3 separate regions of the Homo sapiens genome follow, and regions 2 and 3 are each linked to region 1. The links come from fine-mapping of genetic effects on gene expression. A gene starts in region 1. Each other region holds a variant in brackets. All regions are shown on one strand. Distances are between the middles of the regions.

Region 1 (8,183 bases):
TGCAGCTAGAAGAGTTTTGTGGTTTATTTATTTATTTTTTTTTTTAGACCAGGGGGTCTCACTCTGTTGCCCAGGCTGAGTGCAATGGCACGATCTTGGCTCACTGCAACCTCTGACTCCAGGGTTCAAGCAATCTTCCCACCTCAGCCTCCTGAGTAGCTGGGTCCACAGGTGCATGCCACCACAGCCCACTAATTTTTGTATTTTTTGAAAAGACTGAGTTTCTTCATGTTGCCAAGCTGGTCTCGAACACCTGGGCTCAAGTGATCCACCTGCTTCAGCCTCCCAATGTACTGGGATTACAGGCGTGAGTTACTACGCCTGTCTTGTGTTTACTTTATTTAAAAAATGGGAGACAGAGTAGTGCACGTTTATACTCCACTGGGAAAGATCCAATAGAGAAGGAAAAAGTGGCGCAACATAGAGAGTGAATAACTGCAGGAATCTTCAATGAGGAAAGAGAGGTTTACTCATGCTGGCCTTGAATGGGAGCAGTCTTTTTCCATTGTTACAGAAGAAAGGCAGAGAGTATGGAAGAATACGGATACAGATGCAGGCAGGTTGATAGATCTGATGACATGAAGATGAGACAGCTTCTGATTGCGTCTACTTTCTTTTTTTTTTTTTTTTCTGAGACGAGTCTTGCTCTGTCACCCAGGCTGGAGTGCAGTGGTGCGATCTCAGTTCACTGCAACCTCTGCCTCCTGGGTTCAAGCGATTCTCCTGCCTCAGCCTCCCAAGTAGCTGGGATTACAGGCATGCGCAACCAAGCCCAGCAAATTTTTGTATTTTTAGTAGAAATGGGGTTTCACCACGTTGGCCAGGCTGGTCTCGAACTCCTAACCTCAAGTGATACGCCCGCCTCGGCCTTCCAAAGTGCTGGGATTACAGGCCTGAGTCACCGCGCCTGGCCAACTTTCTAATTAAAGAGAATTACCAGAGACCTACAGTTGTGAGTCTAGAGTGAGACCAATCAGAATGTTTGTGCAATTTTCATCTGCCAAGTTCAAAGCAGATATGAAGTAAGTGAAAAGTTGGATTGGTCAGGATTGGAGTTTTGCCTGCCAAGAATGAGAGAGAGGCAAGGATGCCATGGGTGTTTGCAAGAGACTGTTAGGATAATGGACAATGGGAGTTAAGTAGTGAAAGGAGGGAAGTGAGAACATGAAGGGGATAATGGATAATCATAATATAATGGCAAACCCTACATGGTGGTTACTGGGTGGCAGGCACTGGTTTTAGCTCATTACATATAATAACATGTAATCTTATGACTACATTGGACAGTGAAAAGTGTGATGGTCAGTGAATCAGAAGTCTCCTAGGAAGCCAAATAATCAATGGGGTGGGAATATTTGAATAAATGAACCTGGAGGCAAGAGAGACAGACAGACTTGAGTGTATGTAACCGCTGTCATCTGTTATAACTGTGTGACTGCAAGAAAGGCAATTTGCCTCTCTGACTTTCTATGGCATAAGCCAATAATAACCTATGCCTTTCTTTTTTTAGCCAGTTGTGTTTTTGTTACCTGCAACCAAGGGTTCTGACAATTATAATACAATTGTAATTACACAATTACGAGGATAGAGTGCTGGAGTATGTGGCTCACAGTGAATTTCTACATTCACTAGCTGTCTTCCTTTTCCCCTTCCAACGATGACCTCCAAGAGCAGTAGATGTCTCTTGTATCATTCCAGGAGCTTGAACTTGTGCTGGTCACAGCAGAGACGTGCTCTGAGGACACAGCAGTTCTCCATCACATGAAGGTTAAAACTCAAGCTCCTAAACAAGGAGCTTGTCCACACCTGTCCATATTTCCAGCCCAATATCTTGACCTTCCTCCCTCCTCAAACTTTGCCCTCCAGCTACTAGAGGTTCCCAGAAGAGATGAGGCAATTCTCTCAACTTCTCACCTCTTGCACATGCTGTTTCCTCTGTCTGGATTTACTAGTTCCAAACTCCAGATGAGCTCTTTCTGCTCCAGAAAACTTTCCCTGATTTAACAGCCAGACACAGGTCAGGGTTTCCAGTTCTCACTGCACTTCACAGCACTTTCATTGTAGCAGCTGTCACATTGATAGTAATTGATAGTTTGAGTACCCATCCCACCTGAGGATGATGTGGCAGGTGCCCAGGGTGCATCTCTTCCAACCAAGAACAAGGGGCATCAGGCCATGGTCCAAACTCAGCCCCTGTAATGTCCTCACCTTCACCTCTCTCTTCATAAGCCTTTCACTTCCCTAACAAGCATGCAAGGACTGCCCCCACTTTACTCACCCCTCTCCCGAATACTCTTTGAGCTCATGTAACCAGACTGCACCTGCTCACCCTTCAAGACTCTGTCTAGCCTCTACCTCCTCTATGCAGCTTTTCCTGCCCAACCCTCTCCACTGCAGGTCCTGTTAGGCATTTCTCCTGTGTTACCTCAGCTTCCTGAGTCCCCTATTATAACTCTTGCCATCATCACTTCCCTGTCATGACCCGTTCTTTTATCTGTCTCTAGTGATCTGTGAGATTCTTGAGAATTGAGAGGTTTGCATTCAAATCTGTGTTCCCCCTGCCTATCACTAGTAGTTATTAAATATTTCTTGAATGATTGACAAGACAGAGATTCTGGCTCTTTGGAATTGAGGGTCAGACTCAGGGTTATGGTAATGCTATTCAGGTTCTAATTCCCATAAAGCCTGGGGTGGGAGCAGCCAGTGCTACCTCCTTTGTAACTTTAAGGGGATGGGGGAAGTTATCTGGGTCATAACTGTAATTGCCACCAGAACCACCTGATGTAGGTGTTATGCCCTATTTAAATAGATGTGGAACCTGAGACTCAGAGAAGTGAAATGCCTGCAGTAGGTCCTACAGCTGGAAAATACCTCAATCCTATTTCAAGGTGCTTACAGAATTTCTGCAAAATGGGAGGTGGTAAAGAGTTGCCTTGCGTGCTTTGAGACAAGTTCTTTGCACCTGTTCTCTTATGTCTCTAGTGATCTGTGAGATCCTTGGCTACCAAACACCTACCTTAGAAATACATTTCCACAAGGCCTGTCCCTTTCTTTTCCCAGCTTTGGCATTATTTCTCTCACTTTCAGAGCCCTGCAACTCAATCACACCACCTAGACCATTACTACTCTTCGGCTAACTTAATTCTGGGATTGTTCAGTGGAGGTTATCACATAACGACTATTGATGAAAAGAATTAAACTTTGTAAAATATTTTAAGAGATTTATTCTGAGCCAAATATGAGTGACCGTGGCCCGTGACATAGCCCTTAGGAGGTCCTGAGAACATGTGCCCAAGGTGGTCGGGGTACAGCTGAGTTTTATATATCTTAAGAAGGCATGAGACATCAATCAAATACATTTAAGAAATACATTGGTTTGGTTCAGAAAAGTGGGACCACTTAAAGCGGGGGCTTCAAGGCTATAGGTAAATTTAAACGTTTTTTGGTTGACAATTGGTTGAGTTTATCTGAAGACCTGGGATCAACGGAAAGGAATGTTCAGGTTAAGGTAAAGGATTGTGGAGACCAGGTTTTATTGTGCAGAGGAATCTTTTAGATAGCAGCCTTTAGAGACAGCAGGTTGTAAAATGTTCCTTACCAGACCTAAAACGGTGCCTGGCTCTTAGTTGGTTATCTCCTGGGTGTAGGAAGGAAGGAAGGAAAACAAAGGGGAAAGGGGATATAGAATGTGGATTTTTCCCACAAGAGACTTTGCAGGGCAATTTTAAGGCATGGCAAGGAAATATAATTTGGGGTAAAACATTTTGATTTTCTTCCTTGTTACGCCAGAGTCAGACTGGAAAGTAAGTCATGACCTACATGGTCAAAACCCATCTGATGAGAATTTATGGTTTTTGTAGGCCATGACTCCCCAGACCCCTTAGATAGGAATTTGGGCAAGATAAAAAAGCAGAGCTTAGTCTTCACGATCAACCCCACATGCCAGGCCTTCTGGTAGGCACCTAACATTCAGTCAGTAACTACAGTAACTCTGTCCGTTGTGTCTGGAGCAAGCTAAAAAGGCTGGATTGCTGGGGAAATGGAAAGAAGCCAGCACTAGGGGCCTGGGTTCAAGTCTGGAGGGAAGGAGGGGTTGTTTAGCCCTAACTTTGCACTAAAGTAACCTTGGCTGTGTAATTTAGCCATCTAAGAAAACGAGGGGATAGACACCCCATATGTTCTCTGAGCTCCCTTGAAGATGTCTGTATGAAAGATTCTCTCCTTTTCATGTCCCTTCCGTGCCACTATTCCGAGCATCAGTCTGACCCTAGGAGTGGTGACGTCCTACTCAGCTGGGGGCTGCCCCTCAGTTCCCATAGAGGCAAGTCTGGGTCCTGACTTGGCCAATGGCCCTGGAGGCCGCTGAGCTCCTCAGGCCCATAGCGCAGAAAGTGGGCGATAGGTCATTCCAGGACAAGGGGGCGGAGGCTCCAAGAAACTACGACTCCCAGGAGGCCACTGGGTTCCCTCCGGCAGCCTGGGCCTGGTGCATGTTGGGAGCAGTAAGCGGCCTCCCGCCGCGCTTCATTGTTAAGACCGCTAGGCCAGGTAGCCCGCGCGCATGCCAAGTCACGTCCCAACGAGTTGGGCGGCTTTCCTTCCTGCAGGCCTCTTCTCTTTCCGGTCTTGCTGAGGCGCTCCTTTCCCCGCCCCACCTCCGCCCTCTTTTCAGGGAATTTCGAAGGGGCGTGGCGTCTGGCAAGCGCGTCCCCAGGGGTGTGTATACGCGCGTTCACGGGAGGTTAAAGAGGGAGGAGCCTAACCCTTGGGTGTGTAAGGCAGAGAGAAGACCGCGAGGAACGGAAAGCGCATGCGTCCTAGTGGTGCTGCAGCGCCCGGGGAGTCGCGGAGGGGAGGGGTGAAAATGGGCTTGCGGGACTGACGCACGCGCATTGGGATACCAGATCCCCGCCTCCTGCTCCAGGTTTCCCCTCCTCCTTCACCACCCTCCCGGAAGTGGAGCCGCCCTCGCGCCCACCAGCGGCTACCCCCTGCGGCAGGCCCCGCCCACACAGGCTCCGCCCCCCGGCGCTCCGCCCCCTCCTCTTGTAGTGGCGCCGGCTTGCATCCCAGGTCGTGGCGGTTTTGGTGCCTGAAGCAGGGAGCGCGGAGTCGTTCCCGAGAGAGGCGGCCAGGCTATGCTCGCCGGTTTCCGGCGTTCCGCTCCGGCCAGCCAGAGTCTCTGTCTCAACCTGTGTCCGTGCTCCAGCAGTCTCCTCAGCCCGGCCCCGCGGCGCGGTTGGCGGCGGCGCCCCAGGCGCGCCCCCTCCTCCGATGGCGGCGGAGATCCAGCCCAAGCCTCTGACCCGCAAGCCGATCCTGCTGCAGCGGATGGAGGGGTCCCAGGAGGTGGTGAATATGGCCGTGATCGTGCCCAAAGAGGAGGGCGTCATCAGCGTCTCCGAGGACAGGTATGGACTACTGCCATTCGGCCGCGAGGAGGGGCGGGACGGGCCGACGGCCCTCGAGCCCGCGTCAGGGGCTGTGCCTTCACGTCGGCGCGAGTGTAGACTTGCTCCCCCAAGTTTTATTGTAATGCGCATCCTGGTGGTGCCGGTGTTCAGCTGCGCGCCGCCTCCGCTGTGTGGCTCCGGGAAGCGGAGCCGGGACGGCGGCGAGCGCTCCGGCTTCACCCCGGGCTGGGTAGTGCCTGCGGGAGCCGGGTGGCCCTCGGGCTAACGGTGCGCTGGAGGGACTTTGGTCCATCCCTGAGGACAGGAGGGAAAGAGGGGAGGAGCCGCCCGGCTTTGCAGGTGTGTGCTTGGGGAACGATGCCCTGAGCCGCCTCTGCAAGATAACCAAGGGGTTTGGGGTACTCTCGTACAGCTCCCAGGGTTTCAAACGGAGAAAGCAAATGCCACTCCTTCTTCCCAGACATTCCTACTGAATCCAGATAACCCAGACATCTTAGGCTGAATTCAGTGAATATTCTAAGTTGTACCAAGAGTAAGTTTAGGCTTCTGCGTGGTGCCTTCTTTCCTTTCCCCTCCTTATCTCTTGGAGCTCGAGGAGAAGCGCGTAGAACTTGTAACGGATCACTGCTGCAAATAGCTCTTGAGTTCCTTCCCTTTGCCTGTTTCCTTTATTTTTGCTTAATTTTGCTTAATATGCAGAAGTGGAACTAGTTGTTCTGCCTTCAAATACTCTCTCTGTTTTGCGTTTTCGCTTTAACTGAATTTCCTTGAATATGCAGGAATAAAGCTGATGAAGCTAATTTCTAGAGTAATGTTGCTTGAAGATAGTATTATGATAATTTATCTGAAATTGTTTCTTTGGTAAAATCTATATAAGCATTCTTACAAAAGAACACTGTAGAGGTACATAACACGGGGATTTTACAGTAAGTAGGTTTTCTTAATATAAGTTCAAATCATGCAGAGGTAAAGTATCCTTTCTTGGTGACTCAAAATTGAGAGGCTGAGCAACAAAGTGCTCATTGCTGTCTTTATAGTCATTTCCGCACTTAGCATAGTGTGTGGCCTCAACAATTGAGCTCGATAGGTTTGTTCATGTCTTAGGTTCTTCAGTATAACTAGGATGAGTATATTAATGACATGTTCTTGTCTACATCATGCTCAATACAAATGGCGCCTGATTAATTTCCTGTGCAGATCCAATGGAAAACATTGTAAACATACACCAGTGGCAAGCATTCTGCAATGAACAGAAGAAATTCATGGCTGAAATGGAGTACATGGATGTAGGACCCTTTTGAAATTCACAGAGAAGCCTTATGAGAAAGTTTGATTTTTTCCATAAAGGCAAAATTTTATTAAAAAGACTGCTTCTGGACCTAGAAATTCTTTGGCACAGTATTGTTTTTATGGGATATATTCCATAAAATATATTGAAGGAATATATTGGTAGATGTCACTTTCCCAGTCTGTAACTACTGGAGATGGAACTGATCAATTTCTAACTGCTGTGGAAAATTCATAAGCAAATTCATGGAATCAAGAAAAGGAGAAGGGTAGTTAAACCTAAGCTGCTTTAATATTTTATTTATTTTTTTAAGACTAGTTAAGTACGGTAGTGAGAAGGGGAAGAGAGTAGAACAAGGAGTTCAATCTGTAACTGACTGTGAACAATTGAGATAATAAAACTACCTTCAGACCATCCTAAGCTCCTTTAATATTAAGGTGTTATTATAGTATTGAAACTTCTGATTCCCATTTCACCACATTTACCTTGAAGGAAACAGCTTTACTGGGGTATATTTTCAAGTGTTTGGAGACGCTGAAGTAGTGTATATTAATGAAACTGAAGAATAAATTTCATTTGATTATAGGATGAAAGAAATGCAATGTTCAGCTATGTCTTAGCCTAATTTTCACTTTCCTAGTGTACAATGTAAATAATAGAAATTATTTTGTCATGGAGTTACTGTTAAATAAGGTTCACCCATAAGTCTGGAATTATTATTAATATACTTTTTTTCAAGTTGACAAGTCTGTGCTTCTTTGGGTCATATACTCAAACATGAACATAACTTTGTTATTTAGAGCTCAGTTTTGGTTATGGTTTTCATTAAAATAATTGATCTATATTCTTGCTTTCCAAAATTCAATGTTAATGTCACTTGGTACAATGCTAAATATATGAAAATGTAATATTGATTTTCATCACAACCTACAAAGCCATTACCATTCACTGCTTTAGCTAGAAACTAGTAATCTTCATTCCTGAACTCTGAGGTTAAAGCCGCAAGTAATGTTCCATACCTGAATGGCAGTGTTCCATAAATTCTTAATGAAACCCTGGTTTATCTTTTTGACCTTTGACTTCTTCATTGCCTTTATGTGTGCCTTTGAAAACACTTAACATTTTCCATTTTAAACGGTGTTATACAGTATATACTTCATGTCCATTTTATTTTCTCTTCTGTGAGTTCCCTATGGAGCTTTGTGTGTCTTATTCATTGTATCATCATTAGGGCCTAACATGGTACCTGGCATGCAATACGTCCTCAATACACGTTTGTTGTATCAGTGACTGATCTGTTTTTTTGCTGTTCCTGAAAGCACAGCATCTTAACTACTGTAGACTTTTAGTTGATATTTGTTGAGTGAATTATATGATGACCTATGAAAGGCTTATGTGGACAAGTATACACTTGTAGGAAAAGTACTGGACTAGGTGGACTTTAAAGTACTTCAAAACTCTGAAAGTCCATGAATTGCTTC
Region 2 (8,183 bases), 140 kb after region 1:
AATTCAAGTAGAAAAGTAAAGGAAGACAAAGAGACTGGTTCATAAATTGAATTATCAATTTATGAATAACTTCAAATTCTTTGATTGTTTTGACCGAAGATCTGAAGCTTCAAATATAAATGACCTGTAATAGGAACAACAAGAATGACAATAATAAGAAGGAGAGAAAAGGAAAAGGGAAAAGAAAAAAATCTCAGATTTGCAGGCCCTGAAAATGTCTTAGATTTTCAGTCTTTTACACATTACTTTGTTCACTGTCAAAACAATAATGTGAAGTAAAAACAAAAGACCTAATTCTCTGTTTTCACAGTGTAGAAACCAAGGCTCAGGGAGTAGGTGACTTGCTCAAGGTCACGTAACTGTTAGCCGGCAGAACCAGCATTAGAATTGGGGGATTGTAATTTTTCAGCCAGCCCTCTGCACAACTGGGTACAGCAGAATGGGGTTATTTCCCAAAGACCCCATGGCAGGTAGATGATAGTAAATAGAAATGTGTTCCTTCCCCACTTCACTTGTTAGTCTTTAAATTTGTGAATACTTTATCCAGCGTCATTTGTCAGTGTCTTGTTATTTGACCATGTTTTGATAATATTTTTCCTGTTTTCACAAAAATAATTCAAATATTCTATTTTAGGATTTTGTTCATGTCAGAGATATTTCCACAATGTCACCCTGTGTAGTGGAATGTTTCCCACCTAATGTAATCTCTTAGATTTATTTCTGTTCAGGTAAAGAGTTCTGAAAAGCTGTTAAGATTATGTCAATTTCTTCCTATCATACTTAATGCCAGTCATTCACATCCACTGTTGATTCTTCTATCCCTTTTTGCTTTCTCTCAATTTTTGCTGGAGTATTTTAAAGCAAATTCTAGACCTTATATCATTTTATCCTTATATACTTCATTGAAAATATATGGGTTACTTTTTCAGTAATCACAATGCTATTGTTACATCTAAAAATTAACAATCACTCTTTGATCTCCTTGATATTGTTGAATTTCAGATTTCACTGCTTATTTTGAAAATGGCTTTTGTGCAGTGGATTTGTTTGAAATTCGATCTAGACAAGATCCACACATTGCATGTGGTTGTCACGTCTTCTAAATCTTTCTTCATCCAGAGCAGTGCCCCCTTCACTTTTTTTTAATGCCACCGCCTTGTTGAAGGTACTGAATCAGTTCTCCTGCACACAGTCCCATATTCTAAATTGATGTCATTTAACTTGCTCCTTTACCTACTCTCCTCACATATTTTCAGTAAACTGAAAAACTGCCCCTATAATCTTGATTTCATTCAGATTCAGCCTTTTAGTGAGAGCATTTGGTTCTCACCAAGTGTGCTTCATAGAGCTTCCCATTATAAGGCACATGGCATTGGATTGTCGCCCTTTCAGTTATGCTGAGATTGATTGGCAGTTCGGGTGGTGACAGCCAGATCCCTGCAGCGCCGTCCTCCATACCAGCCTTTTAATAGTTTCATCCGTTGCTGAGCTTTGCCTGAACACTTTTTCGTTAAGGTTGCTAAATGGTGATTTTCTAATCCTATCATATTTTTCCCATGTATTTGTTGGAATCCTAAAGGATAACTTCCCCTGCCTCATTAGCTAGGGCTATTTGGTTACCCTGAAATACAATTATTATAGGAAAAGCAAGATAAATTCTTATATCTGTCTTTTTAGTTCCTAATTTTCAGAGTACAGATTTGGTGCCCTGCTCACCTTTAATAGGAATCTTTTTTTTTTCTTTTTGAGCACTATTATGAAATCTTAGGTTGGTTGGTTGTTTTTAAATAATAATATGTTCAGTATATATCAATAAACTGCCATCTTTTTATTTTATGTTCAAATTATCCTATTTTTGGCCAGTAATAGCTCCATTAAATGGGCTCCAATGTCTTTTTTAACTTTTTTTTTTTTTTTTTTTTTTTGAGATGGCGTTTCACTCTTGCCATCCAGGCTGGAGTGCAATGGCACTATCTCAGCTCACTGCAACCTCTGCCTCCTGGATTCAAGCGATTCTCCTGCCTCAGCCTCCCGGGTAGCTGAAATTACAGGCACTGACCACCGCGCCCAGCTAATTTTTTGTATTTTTAGTAGAGACAGGGTTTCACTATGTTGGCCAGGCTGGTCTCGAACTCCTGACCTCGTGATCCGACCGCCTCGGCCTCCCAGAGTGCTGGGATTACAGGCGTGAGCCATCGCACCCAGCCCAATTTTTATTTTTTAAAGATTATTTTTTAGAGCAATTTTAGGTGCACAGCAAAATTGAGCAGAAAGTATAGAGATTGCCTGTGCACCTCATGACCTCCACATGCATGGCCTCCCCATTACCAGCATCCCCCGCCAGAGTGGTATGCTTGTTAACAATCAGTGAACCTACATTGGCACGTCACTATCACCTGAAGTCCATAGTTTAGGGTTCACTCTTGGTGTTGTACATTCTATGGATTTGGACAAGTATATAAAGACATGTATCTGCCATTGTAGCATCATATGGAATAGTTTCACTGCTCTAAATAGCCTCTGTGCTCTACCAGTTCATCCCTTATCACTGTGTCTGAAATAAGCCCACTTAGCCTTCAGTAGCTTCCTTGCCTTCTGACTCAACATGTCTCAAGTTCATCTTGTACTTTTCCTGTCCCAATCCTGGAATCAGCCATTTTTTTAGTGAGGAACAATATTCAGAGATAGCTAAGAAGTATATATAAATGTGTGTGTATTTTTTAAAAGAGAATAAATCATAAGTTCATATAATATTTCTTATTCAAATTTAACATTATGGGATTTTTACTTTTTGGTTTTTGCACTTGATTCTTTTATCTTCGGCTGAAAATCTTGGTTGTTAAAACATTGGCATAGTTCCTCATTTGGTTTATCCTACGGTTTATTTAAATGGTTCCAAAATAATGAGCAATACTAAATAACAATAAGACTACTGAATGAGATTTTAGATTTCTTTGCAACTCTCTTTGTCCTTAGAATATATTCTACCAGTGATGGGGGCGAGACTTCCCCCTTGTCATAGTTCCCATTTGGAATCCTGTAATATTTTTACATATTAAAAATACATAAAATTTTTGCTCAGGCATGGTGGCTCACACCTGTAATCCCAGCATTTTGGGAGGCCAAGGTGGAAGGATCACTTGAGCCTAGGAGTTTGAGACCAGCCTGGGCAACAAAGTGAGACATTGAAACATTGAAAATGTTGTGTTTTAAAGGCACTCGAAATTGTTCTAATTATGTGATTATGTCACCAATTTGATAGGTTCATTCATTTTACTTTGTTTTCAATTTGGGGGATTTTTTGAGATATATATGTGTATGTATATACATATGTGTGTGTGTGTGTATATATCTATATATACACAATTTTTTTTTTTTTTTTAAGACAGGGTCTCACTGTGTCACCCAGGCTGGAGTGCAGCGGCTTGAACATGGCTCACTGCAGCTTCAATTTCCTGGACTCAAGCAATCCTCCTGTGTCAGCCTCCCATGTAGCTGGAACCACAGGCATGTGCCACCATGCTCAACTAATTATTTTAGTTTTTGTAGAGATGAG[G/A]TCTCACTTTGTTGCCCAGGCTCAAGTGATCCTCCCTCCTTGGCCTCCCAAAGTGCTGGGATTACAGGCATGAGCCACTGTGCCTGGCCACAAATTTTTGTACCTTTTAATATGTAAAGATTTTACAAAATTCTAAAATAGGAACTATGACAAGGGAGAAGTCTCACTGCCATCACTGTCCCCTGACCTTGCCACTTTTGTTAGATCTTAATCCCTCTAGTGCTTCCCTTTCTAAATATGAGTGCATACATGCACATGCACACACATACATACACATTTGTATTTCTCTCTGTTTCTTACACAAAGGTAGTATAGCTTATAAACTCTCATATGCGTTGGCTGCCCCCTCCACACACACTTGATAATATATCCTGGTGTCTGTGTATAAAGATCTCCATTTTTACCCCAGCTGCATAATATTCTATTGTGTGGATGTAGCATAGTTAATTCAGTAAGTCCCTTATTGATAGACGTTTGGGTTATTTTCAAACTTTAGCTATTAAAATAACATGGAGTGACTAGCCTTGGGCATGTGTCATTCTGTATTTTTGCCTGTGTGTCTCTGGGTGGATCTTTAGAAATAGGGTTGCTAGGCTTTGTCAACCAGAGAAGCTTGTTAGAGACTCCATGCCTAGGGCTTTTACTGGTCACGTAGGCAGATCTACCTGGGACATTCCAAAATTCCAGATTCCCAGAAGGAAAGCAGGTATTCAGTGTAAGCCACATTATTTGAACAGTTAAGGCACAGTGAGCCACTCTTATCAGTTAATGGTGGGAACCTTCCCAAAATCCAAATTCCCAGACACTATGCCAACTTCGTAAGCCGACTTTCAGAGGATCACAGTCAGAGCTGCTGTGTTAACTCTTTTTTCACAGCACCATTTTGATTTCTTCTTGAACTATCTATTAATAGTTCCATTCAAATTTTGCCCATTTTTCTATTAGGTTTGGGATCCTTTTCTTCTTGATTGCTCTTTTTATATTAGAGATTTGGGCCCTTTGTGACATAAATTGCAAATATTTTTTTCCAGTTTATCTTTTGGCTTTGCTCATAATATTTGTTGTGTTTTTGAGTCATAGCTTTTCCCACTCCAAGGTTACAAAGAAACTTTCCTATCTAAAGCTTATGTTTTCATTTTCTACATTTAGATCCCTAATTCATTTGGAATCTGTCCCAGTATACATTGTGAAATACAGATTCTATTTTCTTTTTCCAAATGGCTATCCAGTTTGTGCCAACATCATTTTTTTAAATTCATCTTTTCCTTATTCATTTGAAAAGCTACCTTCATCAGACATTTACTAAATTTCATTGTGCTTTTGGGTTTATTTCTCGACTTTGTATTCTGTTCTGTTAGTCTATTTATGCACCAATACTACACTTTTAATTAAAGAAACTTTATAACATTTTTTAATATCTGGTAGGGCTAACCTCCCTATCACATACCATATTGTTCTTATTTTCAGAGTATTCTTGGCTCTTTTTGCTTATTTATTTTTCCATATGAACACTTCTGGCTATAGAAAACAACATGTGTTGATATTTTTTAAATATATAGATTTATTTTATTAATTTAGGAGCAAGAAGTGACATCTTTAAGTTTTAAGTCTTACTGTCCAATAATACAGTATGTCCTTCATTTAGTTAAGTTCACTTTTGTGTCTTTCAGCACTGTCTTCACATTTTCCTCAGATGGGATTTGCGTATTTCTTGTTACATTTATGCCCTGTTTTTTCATTGTAAATTCCCTCATTTAATTTTGAGAAACAATCCTTAATGCTTTCATGACAGATTTGATGTTGAAACCCGGCATGTGTTTATCGGTGACCACTCAGGCCAAGTAACAATCCTCAAACTGGAGCAAGAAAACTGCACCCTGGTCACAACATTCAGAGGACACACAGGTAGGATTAACAGTAAAATCGTCATGTGCTGATAGCACAGTGAGATATCGCCTGCTGCATCTCCTGATGTTCAGATATGTTTTGAAAGTGGCAAAGTACAATCCATGCTTGTGCAAAGATACACATGATATGCTTAACTCATTTCAAAATGGTTCAGTAAGATATAACATCAAACGTTTTTCTGTATAATCCAAACAAAAGAGAAACCAATCTATTTTGAAAATGTTGATAATTTGGTTCTCTGTCATACTGCACCAGAGAAAGCCAGTGTTGGCATACATTAATGAGGCATTGTTTGAGACCATGTGGCCTCGGACGGCTCAAACCCCAGAAGGCCAAAAAGACAGCTGCCTCGGTCTGACCTTGCCCTTCCTGGAGTTAGAAGATGGTGTACAAGAAAGATTCCCACTTCCAAGTCACATGAAAAGACAGATATACTCTTCATGAGTAGCTAGACTTTGTGAAAAAGGTCAAGTTCCTCTCCAACTTTCCTTCCTTCATATCCTTTTCAGGTTAAAACCTAAGGTCCCCTTTATGTTTTTGCTTTGCTCAGGGTCACTTAAGCAAGGTAATATAAAATATTCATGCTTAGCCTTTGAAAGACTTGATAGATGATAATGATTAATTTTTTACTAGTAGTTTTAACGTGTACTATTGACTCTAGAACTTATCGACCCTAGAAAATGAGTCATCGCCAGTTTTCATGGTTCTTAAAGGGCTTTTCCGTTTTCTACCAGCTACAAACCCATGATTTTGTGTAAAACAGGAGAATACTGAGTTTAGATGTCATATAAGAAAAAAAGTAGGGGAAAGAGGATGTAAAATTGGATAGTACCTGGTTCATAAGGGGCTTCCTAAAGGGAAAAAATGGAATGCTAGAATAAGAAACATATAGTAAGGAAAAAATTGAATCCAAGGAAGAAGATTCATAAAAGATCATCTTAATTATTTATGCCTTTGGGAGGAAGAACACATGGAAATATCCCCTATGGATAGGACCCTGGTCTTCCCTGACTGAATTTCTTTTTTAGCCGCTTACACCCTCACCTACACTTTGGCCAAGACTGGGCCTGGGGTTCTGGGGGGGACCCAGAACTGTCCCACCTCAGAAGTCTTAAACTTCTGTGCGTCACTGCAGACTTCAGCCTCCTCATCCTCCAATTCCCTACACCTTTCTTCATTCCACTTACTGTTTCCCCTTGTGGCGCATTCTAGCCCGCGGTCCTTCCATTTTCCCAGCGTCTCTTCCCCTGCATCACCTTTCCTCCCAGTGGTGCATCGCTTCACCCACGGCTTCTCAGCGTTCTCAGTTCTGTGAATGTAAATGTTCTGCCTTCTTGGCAAGCCTGTCTGATTCAGACTAACTCTCCACCTTTTCTTCTTGTGCAGCCAGCTGCTGGGTCTACAGTAGTCACGCTGCCTTGAGGCTTAGACCATCATTACCATTGCACACTCACGATTTCCTGTGCAGACTCATGAAGTTGCCTAATAATCCCTCTCCCTGTCCTCAGTTCACTCCTTCTCCCAGGCCCCTAAACAGAGACCTTCACCATCCTTCCCAAGCCCCCATCGCCATCTCATTCCTTGCCTCTTCCTTCAAAAGCTATCAAATAGAAGCTTTAAAAAAAAAAAAAAAACCACATATTTCTTGCCCACTGTATATCCCCCTCACCCCAACAAACAAACTTTTTCTCTCCCCACTTCTCCTCTTCTCAGTGCAGGAGAGCTGCCTTCCTCCAGCCCATTCTTCTCTTCTCAGTGCAGGAGAGCAGTCTTCCTCCAGCCCATTCTTCTCTTCTCAGTGCAGGAGAGCTGCTTTCCTCTGGCCCCAGTCTATTTGCAGGGTCTCCACGCCAAAATGGATTGCCTTGATCTCTCTTTTGACTAACTCATTCTTCTCAATTTATTAATATGCTTATGTTTTTTGCCTCTGGTAGAAAAACAAAGCAACACCCTCTCAATCCCATGTCTTATAGCAAGTTCCTTCTTATTCTCTTAATAGCAATGCTTCTTTTTAAAAAATTGTGGTAAAATGTATAAAACATAAAGTTTACCATTTTAACCATTTTTAAATGTGCTGTTCAATGACATTAACTACATTCACACTGTTGTGCAGTCATCACCATCCATCACAGAACCTTTTCCATCTTGTGAAACTGAAACTCTGTTCCCTTGGACATTAACTCCCCATCCTCCCCCTCGGCCCCCCAGTCCCTGGAAACTGTTACTCTGCTTTCTGTTTCTATGAATTTGACTAGTCTAGGTGACTCATAGGAGTGGAATCATGCAGTATTTGTCCTTTTGTGACTGGCTTATTTCACTCAGCATAATGCCCTCAAGGTTCATCCAAGTTGTAGCAAACAATCGTGTTTCTTAAAAGAATATAATTTTCCCAGCTGCTTCATATTTTTCACTTCCAATTTGCCTTCCAGCTCCCTGCAATCTGGTTTGTCGTTATTACGCCACTGAAACTGCTGTCCCCGAGGTGACCAGTGGCCTGCTGGGACACGTTGTAAACCTTGTCGTACTTAACTTTTCAGCAGCATTTTACATTGTGGCCATTCCTTCTGGCTGTAACGGCCTTCCTTTGGCTTTTCTTCTATGACGCTGCTGGCTTTCTCAGGCTCCACTGTGGTCTGCGGTTTCCCAGGATCTTCCCTGGATCCCCTTCTCTTTACGCTCTGTGCTGTCCCTTGTCATCTCAGCCATTCCTCCCAGTCCC
Region 3 (8,183 bases), 49 kb after region 1:
ATGGGCTTCAGAGGGGAGGAAGTGCATGCTGATTGGTTCGTGGGCAGCCATGGGCAGGCTCAGAAAAAGCACCATAAGTTCTCGTTTTGGGCCCCAGACTCTAGCTGGAACTGGCAGACCTCAGGCCATCCCTGTCTTGAAGGTGGGGTTTCACTGGGGACCCACCCCTTTCTGCCCAGGAACCTGTCTGCGTCCTGGCATCAACATGCCATCCACGGCACCCAGGCTGTTCGTGCTGAGAGGCACCTGCAGTCCTGCGCTGAGCCGCCCCTCAGGCCCCACTGGGCTCCCTCCCTGAGCTCCTCAGTGCCCAAAGTTTCAGAGGGGGCCGAGGTGGTGTTGGGGGATGCTGGTGTGCAGTGCTGCCCCATGTGCATGCACACCCGACCATGTCACGGCAGTGCCTGGGCTTTGCTTCAACTTTGTTCTGAAATCAGAGCGGACGCCAGGAGGTGGGAGAGGCCAGGGCGTGGGAGCAGGTCTTTTTGAGCCTGTGGGGACAGGAGGGCTTCCCAGGCCCCTGAGAGTCCAGGGATGCTCGTGTCTGGAGCTTCAGCTGGATGGCTGCAGCTACACCCAGGAGCACCGGTTTCCCATCCCACCAACTCGGTAGGGGGCAGGGTTTCCGCCTGTTCCTTGCTCCCACTGGCCTCACAGAGCGAGTATCCCTAGCGGCACCCCCCCTGCTGCAGCCGGCCTCTTCCGAGTGGTCCCTCCAGATGGCCACGGCTGCCATCGGAAGAAGAGAGGCAGGATGAGCTAATAGAGCCCTTGATGCATCACAGATGCCAGTTAGTTGCTTTACTCTGCAAGTCATGTTTAACTGAATGGAATTTTCTAACAGGTGGAATTGCAGTGTCTAAAAAGGGCCTTAGAAACCCATTGACCAGCATTTAAAAAATAGTGTCATAACTTTAAGATTGAGCAGCAGACTAAATTCTTCCAGGGTTTTGACCTCTTCTGAAGACATATTTGTATGCTCTGTGGGACTTTTCTGTTTCTGTGATCCATTTTGATGGTTTTAAACTATACATTGACAGATTCCTTGTGTGTGAAATGAAGAGTTTGAATAGATTATTTCTTAGGTCCCCTTCAACTTTGAAGTTGAAATTCTGAGACCCAGAGTTTTAGTTTTAAGCTATGGAGAAGACAGTCTTGGAAAATGCCTATGAAACTAAGGGATAAGTGATACTCCTCACATGGGAAGTCTCTCAAGCTGTTCTCTCTCTTCCAGTGAGGAAGGCTAACAGAGGAAGACCATGAAGCACACCAAGTGGATAGTGTGGGTTTCTCCCTAGCCTGCTTTGGTCTCTAAACGTTCATGTAGATAGATTACAGTAGATTTAGGAATGCAGATGGTTACTGGTATTAATTAGATACCTAAAAGAATTTTAAGTCTTTGGCAATTGATATAACCATGTGTTTGTTTTAGTATTATGTTTATGAAGCATGGTATATGAAAAGAGGATGTTATTTGGGTTGATTTTAAATTTCTCAATTTAATATGACTTTGGAAGAGGTTCCTCACTACAAAATGGTCTATTTACCTATTTTTTAGTTTTCTCTATTTATTTATAAGGGTTGTATTCAGTAATATAAATGAAATAAAGGTGTGTGAAATACTCTGTGAACTGTTCTGTACAAGCATTGCACTCTACATAGAGGATAATCATTAATAACATCATGAGCTTCCTTTTTATACAAAACTACTGTGTGTGTCATGGAGAATTTAAAAACCTCATAAACAAATCAAGTTGAAATAATTCTAATTGGAAAACAAGGAGAAAGTAGCTATGTCACTGTGGCCAAGGGGTGATTGAGGCTTTTTGTTTTCTTCAGTAACGGTTCTCTTTAGTTCTTTGATTTTTTTTTCTTTTCTTTCTTTCTTTTCTTTTTTTTTTTTTTTGGTTTATAGATGTATTACATCTGAAAAATATTGAAAGTACAAAAACAGTATGTGAAGCAGGAGGTATGAAACCACTCATGATCCCACAATCTTGGAGCAACCACTAATGTTAGCAAACATTAATATGTTTCCTAACTACTTCTTCTTTGATCTTAGTATAGTTAAAATCATTTTATATACACAGTCTTATAAACCTTATGTTCACTTAACATAATATCTCCAGCACATTAACAGTGATAGAGCAGAAATATGGAGCCTTAGCCATTAAAGACATTGAGTTACTGAATCAACCTGGAACTACCTTCTAGTCATTTTGTTTTAAGTCAGACCCTGTTTTCTTTAAATCACTGAGGTTAGGTATTGTTATTTGCAGCCCAAATCATCTTAAACTGAGAAAGCTGTCCTAAATTTCTTATTTATTCCCATGTACGATTTCTTACTTTTATAGCATGTGAATGTAGAGTAGATTTCTGTAAGTGGAATTTCTGAGTCACAGACTATATACTTTGTTTTTGTTTTCTGATGATTTGTTTTATTTTCCTGTCAGCTCATCATAAGACTTTAAAAAATTATTATTTTAGTGAATTTTTTTGGTGTTTTAAACTGGTAGAGTTCCCTTTCTTTCTTTTTTTTTTTTTATGTTTGGGTCACCACAGTGCCCGCAACATTCTTTCTTTCTTTATGCATACTTTTTGAACAACTATACGTGTGGCACTTTTGCACACATTGCCTCATTTAATAACCCAGTCAGATGGGTGGTATTTTGTTCTTTCACCCAGTTGATGAGGGGTTTCTCTTTTATAGGGGTATTTAACCCATTAGCGTTTACTGAATGTTTGGTCTTACCCTTGGCTTTTTGTGTTATGTTTTCAAGTTATTATGCTGATTGTTTAGCTTTCACTGAAATTTTTTTTTTCAAGTTTTTCTTTTTTTTTTTTAGTTTCTCTTTTTTGAGACAGAGTTTTTTGCTCTTGTCACCCAGGCTGGAGTGCAGTGGCGCTATCTCGGGTCACTGCAACCCCTGCCTCCTGGATTTAAGCGATTCTCCTGCCTCAGCCTCCCAAGTAGCTGGGATTACAGGTGTGTGCCACCACGCCCAGCTAATTTTCTGTATTTTTAGTACAGACGGGGTTTCACCATGTTGGCCAGGCTAGTCTCGAACTCCTGACCTCAGGTGATCCACCCATCTCGGCCTCCCAAAGTACTGGGATTACAGGCGTGAGCCACCATGCCCAGCAAGCTTTTCTGTTTTTTAAGGAAAGAAAACAAGCTGGGCATGGTGGCTCACGCCTGTAATCCCAGCACTTTGGGAGGCCGAGGCGGGAGGATCACTTGAGCCCAGGAGTTCAAGACCAGCCTGGGCAAGATGGAGAAATCCGTCTCTACAAAAAATGTAAAAATCAGCTGGGTGTGGTGGCTTGTGCCTGTAGTCTCAGCTACTTGAGAGACTGAGGTGGGAGGATCACTTGAGATCAGGAATTTCAGTCAGCAGTGAGCCATGATGGTGTCATCGCACTGCAGCCTGGGAGATGAAGCAAGATCCTGTCTCTAAAAAAAAAAAAAAAAAATTTAAAAAGAAGGAAAACAATTCTCTGTGACTTGGAAGTTATATGTCCAATTTTTGTTCTTCTTGTGGGTAATTAAAATTTGAACTTACTTGTTTATCATTAGAACAGTATCTATGGAGTTCTCCTAAGCCATGTGATCACTTCAGCACATTTTCTTTTCTTCTCCTTACCGTCTAAATTTTGTTGAAATAATGAGAAACATTTGTTCATTTTTTTTACATTATGCTCCTTCAAGCATGCTTTCAACTTACAATGTTGAAAGCATAATTTGCATTATGATTTCAACATTGACACGCATTATTTAGACGAGGATCTTGCCATGTTGCCCAGGCTGGTTTTGAACTGTGGGGCTCAAGCA[G/A]TCCTCCCATCTCAGCCTCCCAAAGTGCTGGGATTACAGGCGTGAGCCACTGTGGCCAGCCTAGACCTCTCTAGCTTTGTTAGCTTTATTGCTCACTGCTGTTTCTCTTATACTTCTATTTATCTTTTACTTTCTTGAGTTTTTTATTCTATTTTTTCAGTTGATTATATATCCTCCCTTCCTTAAGAATATTTCTACAGATAAGGTATGTGGAAAGTATATTTTTGATTCCCCTGTTTATTAATGTATTTCTTCTATGTTATAGTAATGATAATTATAGTATTGATAATTCATCTAAATTTAGAATTTGTGTGTCATAGACTTATCTTTTCAGAGTCCTATAAATCTTACTCCATTGTCTTTTAACACTTAGTATGGTAGATGAGAAACCCAGTGTTCATCTCATTCATGTTCCTTTTTATTTTTTTAATCTTGGTGGAGGAGCGGATGTCTATTGGACTCTTTTTCTCTCTGACATTCCAAAGCTCTCCTAGGATGAGCATGGTTCTTTTGTGATTAATTTTGCCAAGCTCTGAATGAATAATTATATTCTAAAAAACTCATTTTGAGTTCTGTTTTTTTTCCCATTATTTATTACTTTTTCTTTACTTAAATATTATTTCTTCTGTTTTCTCTTTCTGAAATACCTATTAGACACAGATTTGATCTTCTACCATTCAGGTGCTATATTTTTCAGTCATAATTTCCCATTTTTCCTTGTTTTCTTGTGCTTTCTGGGAGATTTCGTGGAGCAGGTCTTTCAGGTTCCCGTTTGGTTTTATGCAGGAGCCAGTCTGCATTTCAGTGCATCTCTTCTTTAGGCTACCCATTTTGCTTTTTACTTTCATTTGCTATGTCCTATTGCTCCTTTTTCATCTCTCTTCATAATAACTTTTGTAATCAATGATACAGATAAAAAAGTTTAAATCTCACTGAGAAAATTTTAAAATGTGCAATCTTAAAAATTTTTAAATGTACAAACTTGTCTTGTTTCTAGCAGTTACCCTAATTATTCAAACATTTTCACTTCACCTAAAATACTGGGTCTTTCCCCTGTCTAGTTTGCTAGCTTCTCTGTTCACTCATCTGCCAAGTAGGTCTAATTTGTTCATTATTGGTAACTGAAATATGCTTTGTCAGAGGTTGTGTAGGTCATTATTCAGTTCTTTTCATTCCAGGCAAAAATAGGGAAAAACGTTAGATTTACTGTGATTTTTTTTATCTGCAGCTTAGAGTTCTAATAGTTTGTGTGGGGCAGGGTTGAAGCTGTAGGCAGTGGGAGACAACTGCAGGGCAGACTTTGTCTTTGTTCAGGAACAGTGTTCCTTTTGTGTCTGCCTTGGCAGCTTCTGGCCCGCTGGGGTAGTTTCCCTTCCCCCTGAATAGCTGCCTGGCCTAGGCATCCAGGCAGAAACTCCAACCAGCATGGCTGCTGCTCCAGCACTGGCCTGGCCTCCAGCCTCTGCTCCAACCCTGGAGCTGTCAGTAGGCTCTGAAGTGGGGATCCTGGTGGACTTGGCCACCCCATGTGTAGTGGAGTGATTAAGAGTTTAAACTTGAGTCTGATCGCCTTTGTGTTCCAATCTTGGTTGTGCTACTTGAGAACTGTATAACATTGGTCATCTTGTTCAACTTCTGAGCCCCAGTTTACTCGTGTGTATAATAATATTGAAATTTGTTAACGGCTTAAGGCACTTAGTAGGGTATCTGGATCTAAATAATTGATGAATGGCAGCAGTTTTGTTGTGGGTGTTCTGGGAACTGGCTGCTAATTGGCCTCTCCGCTCACTCTGCTGTTTGCTAAATTATTCCTGTTAGCTCTTCTCAAGGGGTCACTTTTGTGGATGGGTCACTTATGAAGTAGCCAGTCAGTGGTGGAGACTTTTTTTCTCCTGAATTAGTTGGATCATTTTAGCAAGAAGTGATGAGGGGAGGGAGTCACATGCATCATCTTGATTCTAGACCATCACAGGTAATTCTTTAAACCACCTGAAGTTTTTAGAACCAAATAAATAAATAGGGCAGCACCTTTTATTGTGTAATTCATTTGTCCCCCTATGATTTTTAATAAATTTTTAATATGCTAGTTAGTATATATACTTTGGTCTGTTTCTGAGCTTTCAGTTCTTTCCCATTGGTCATTCTGTTTAATCTGGTGCAGTGCCACACTATTTTAGTCTTTCTTCAGTGACAGGAGAGAATCGTTGTTAAGAGCATGATGTTTGGAGACAGGTTGCCTGGGTTTGAATTCTGGCTCCTTTGATTAATTTCTAAGAGGTTAAATTAATTACTTACCTAAATTACTTAACTTCTTTTTGCCTCAGTTCATCAGCTCCAAAATGGACATGAGGATAATCCCAATTTAGAGGACCATTGTAAAGATTAAATAATTCTCAGGTCATTAAAACTGAGCTTGGCTTTATGAGAGTTATTTGAATTATTACAGGGCTTTAACAACCAAGAACTGATAGTGTAGTCTTGCAAAGCCCTAGAAGTGTTTTTTTTTTTTCAGAAGTAGTGGATGAAAATCTTACTCTGTGAGTTCTGTGAGGGCCAGGAACCCATTTTTACCCTCTTTGTATTCCTAGTACTAGACCTGATTCATGATAAATACTCAATATATATTTACCAAACCTAAGGAAAAGTAGTACTTTAGCCTTTTAATACACAAAGATTTAAAAATATATCATGAATCCAGGTAAGAGTCAATTAAGCTTTTGTAAATTTATAATACTTGTTAGCACTAAGATTGGAAAAGGCAGCCAGGTGCAATGGCTCACGCCTGTAATCCCAGCACCTTGGGAGGCCAGGGTAGGTGGATCACCTGAGGTCAGGAGTTTGAGACCAGCCTGACCAACATGGCAAAACCCCGTCTCTACTAAAAAATGCAAAAATTAGCCAGGTGTGGTGGTGCATGTCTATAAGATTGGAAAAGGCTGTTTTTTTTGTTTTGTTTTTTTTTTCCCCATATATTCAGTACCAGGAAAGAACTATAGTAGAGCAAGGAGGACTTTTTTGTGAAGACATTTGTTTATTGATCAAAACAATAGGGTGCATCATGGTTGGGTTAAGTGGATTTATCCATAGGTCAGAGTTGGAGTAGAGGGAAGGGAAGAATGCAGAGTCCCCCCATAAGGAAGCCCTAAACATTTATTTACTTATTTTTTAATTTTTTAGTTTTATTTTTTTGAGATGGAGTCTCTCTCTGTTGCCCAGGCTGGAGTGCAGTGGCACCACCTTGGCTCACTGCAACCTCTGCCTCCCAGGTTCAAGCAATTCTCCTGCCTCAGCCTCCCGAGTAGCTGGGATTACAGGTGCCTGCCACCACGCCTGGCTAATTTTTTTTTTGTATTTTTAGTAGAGACAGGGTTTCACCATGTTGGCGAGGCTGGTCTTGAGCTCCCGACCTTCAGTGATCTGCCCATCTCGGCCTCCCAAAGTCCTGGGATTACAGCGTGAGCTACTGCACCCCCGGCAGGAAGTCCTAAACCTTTTAAATGGCAAGAGTTGAGAGAGAAATTATGACGTGATCATCATTTTTCATGCCAGGCTGTGAAGAACAGCAGCTTTGCGTAATTGAGAGAATTTCACAGAACAGCATGTATTTTGTCTCTGTACCTTGAGGCATAAATTAGACGTGATCAAATCCAGATCTAGCTAATGCACTGTGCAAGGTGCTCTAAATGCCTATAAGCCATTTTTTTCGGCTTCCTGTCTTCTGTTTTCTAAATAGTGAAAACTTTTCACCAAACTTCCTGCATTTCACCTTTTGTCCTCCATGTCTGATTTCTTCCTCTCTCTGAGCATTCAGACAGCTTCAGAAATAGTCTCATGGTAAGGCTTAGGCTTTCGAGTCAAACTCCCGGGAGGAACTCCTGGTTCTTCTTCCCCATGGCTTGGGAACTACAGACAGGTGAGGGTCTCCACACTACAGTTTCTCACTTCTAAAGGGGAAGTGAAAACAGGATCTCTCTTACTCGTAGTACTTTTGTAAGGATTAAATGATACAAAGCAAATAAAACACAATGTGTCTGAAAATAATGAATGCTCAATATGTTATTAGTCCTTCTGCTACTATTATTTAATTTTTTCAACTAATGGAAGGAAAACTGGCAGCTTTACTGTAACCATACCCTCATTCCCCATTTCTCTTCTGGTGTCCCTATATCTGGGCAGTACCAAAGTGTAATTCCCTTCTCAGATATGGAAGCACCTACATACACTTTAACCTGGCTTGACTCTCTTAATGGAAGGAATGCCCACCGGAAGTTTCATCATCTTTTTTTTCAACATGCTGGGTGCACAATTTTGTCTTCCCTTACATATATCAGGAACCCCAACAATCGTCCAT

The links.
Region 2: its variant is fine-mapped to the expression of WDFY2 in whole blood (TOPMed, PIP 0.98).
Region 3: its variant is fine-mapped to the expression of WDFY2 in whole blood (INTERVAL, PIP above 0.99).

Annotation. Positions count from the first base shown.
Region 1 is chr13:51,579,414-51,587,596 of GRCh38, forward strand. WDFY2 (WD repeat and FYVE domain containing 2) reads left to right here and starts at 5,049. Exons shown (of 12, transcript NM_052950.4): 1 at 5,049-5,411. The coding sequence starts at 5,275. It also overlaps the pseudogene RNY1P6. RefSeq lists enhancers at 4,301-4,821, 4,480-4,759 and a silencer at 4,900-5,269.
Region 2 is chr13:51,722,330-51,730,512 of GRCh38, forward strand. It overlaps WDFY2 (WD repeat and FYVE domain containing 2), which reads left to right. Exons shown (of 12, transcript NM_052950.4): 6 at 5,349-5,461. LOC124903177 (a long non-coding RNA gene) reads right to left here. Exons shown (of 2, transcript XR_007063807.1): 2 at 1-124. Among named protein-coding and RNA genes, the nearest start is that of DHRS12, 78 kb to the right of the region's middle. The variant G/A (reference allele first, on the strand shown) is at 3,557.
Region 3 is chr13:51,627,936-51,636,118 of GRCh38, forward strand. All of the region lies in intron 1 of WDFY2 (WD repeat and FYVE domain containing 2), which reads left to right. Among named protein-coding and RNA genes, the nearest start is that of WDFY2, 48 kb to the left of the region's middle. RefSeq lists enhancers at 1-360, 361-979. The variant G/A (reference allele first, on the strand shown) is at 3,833.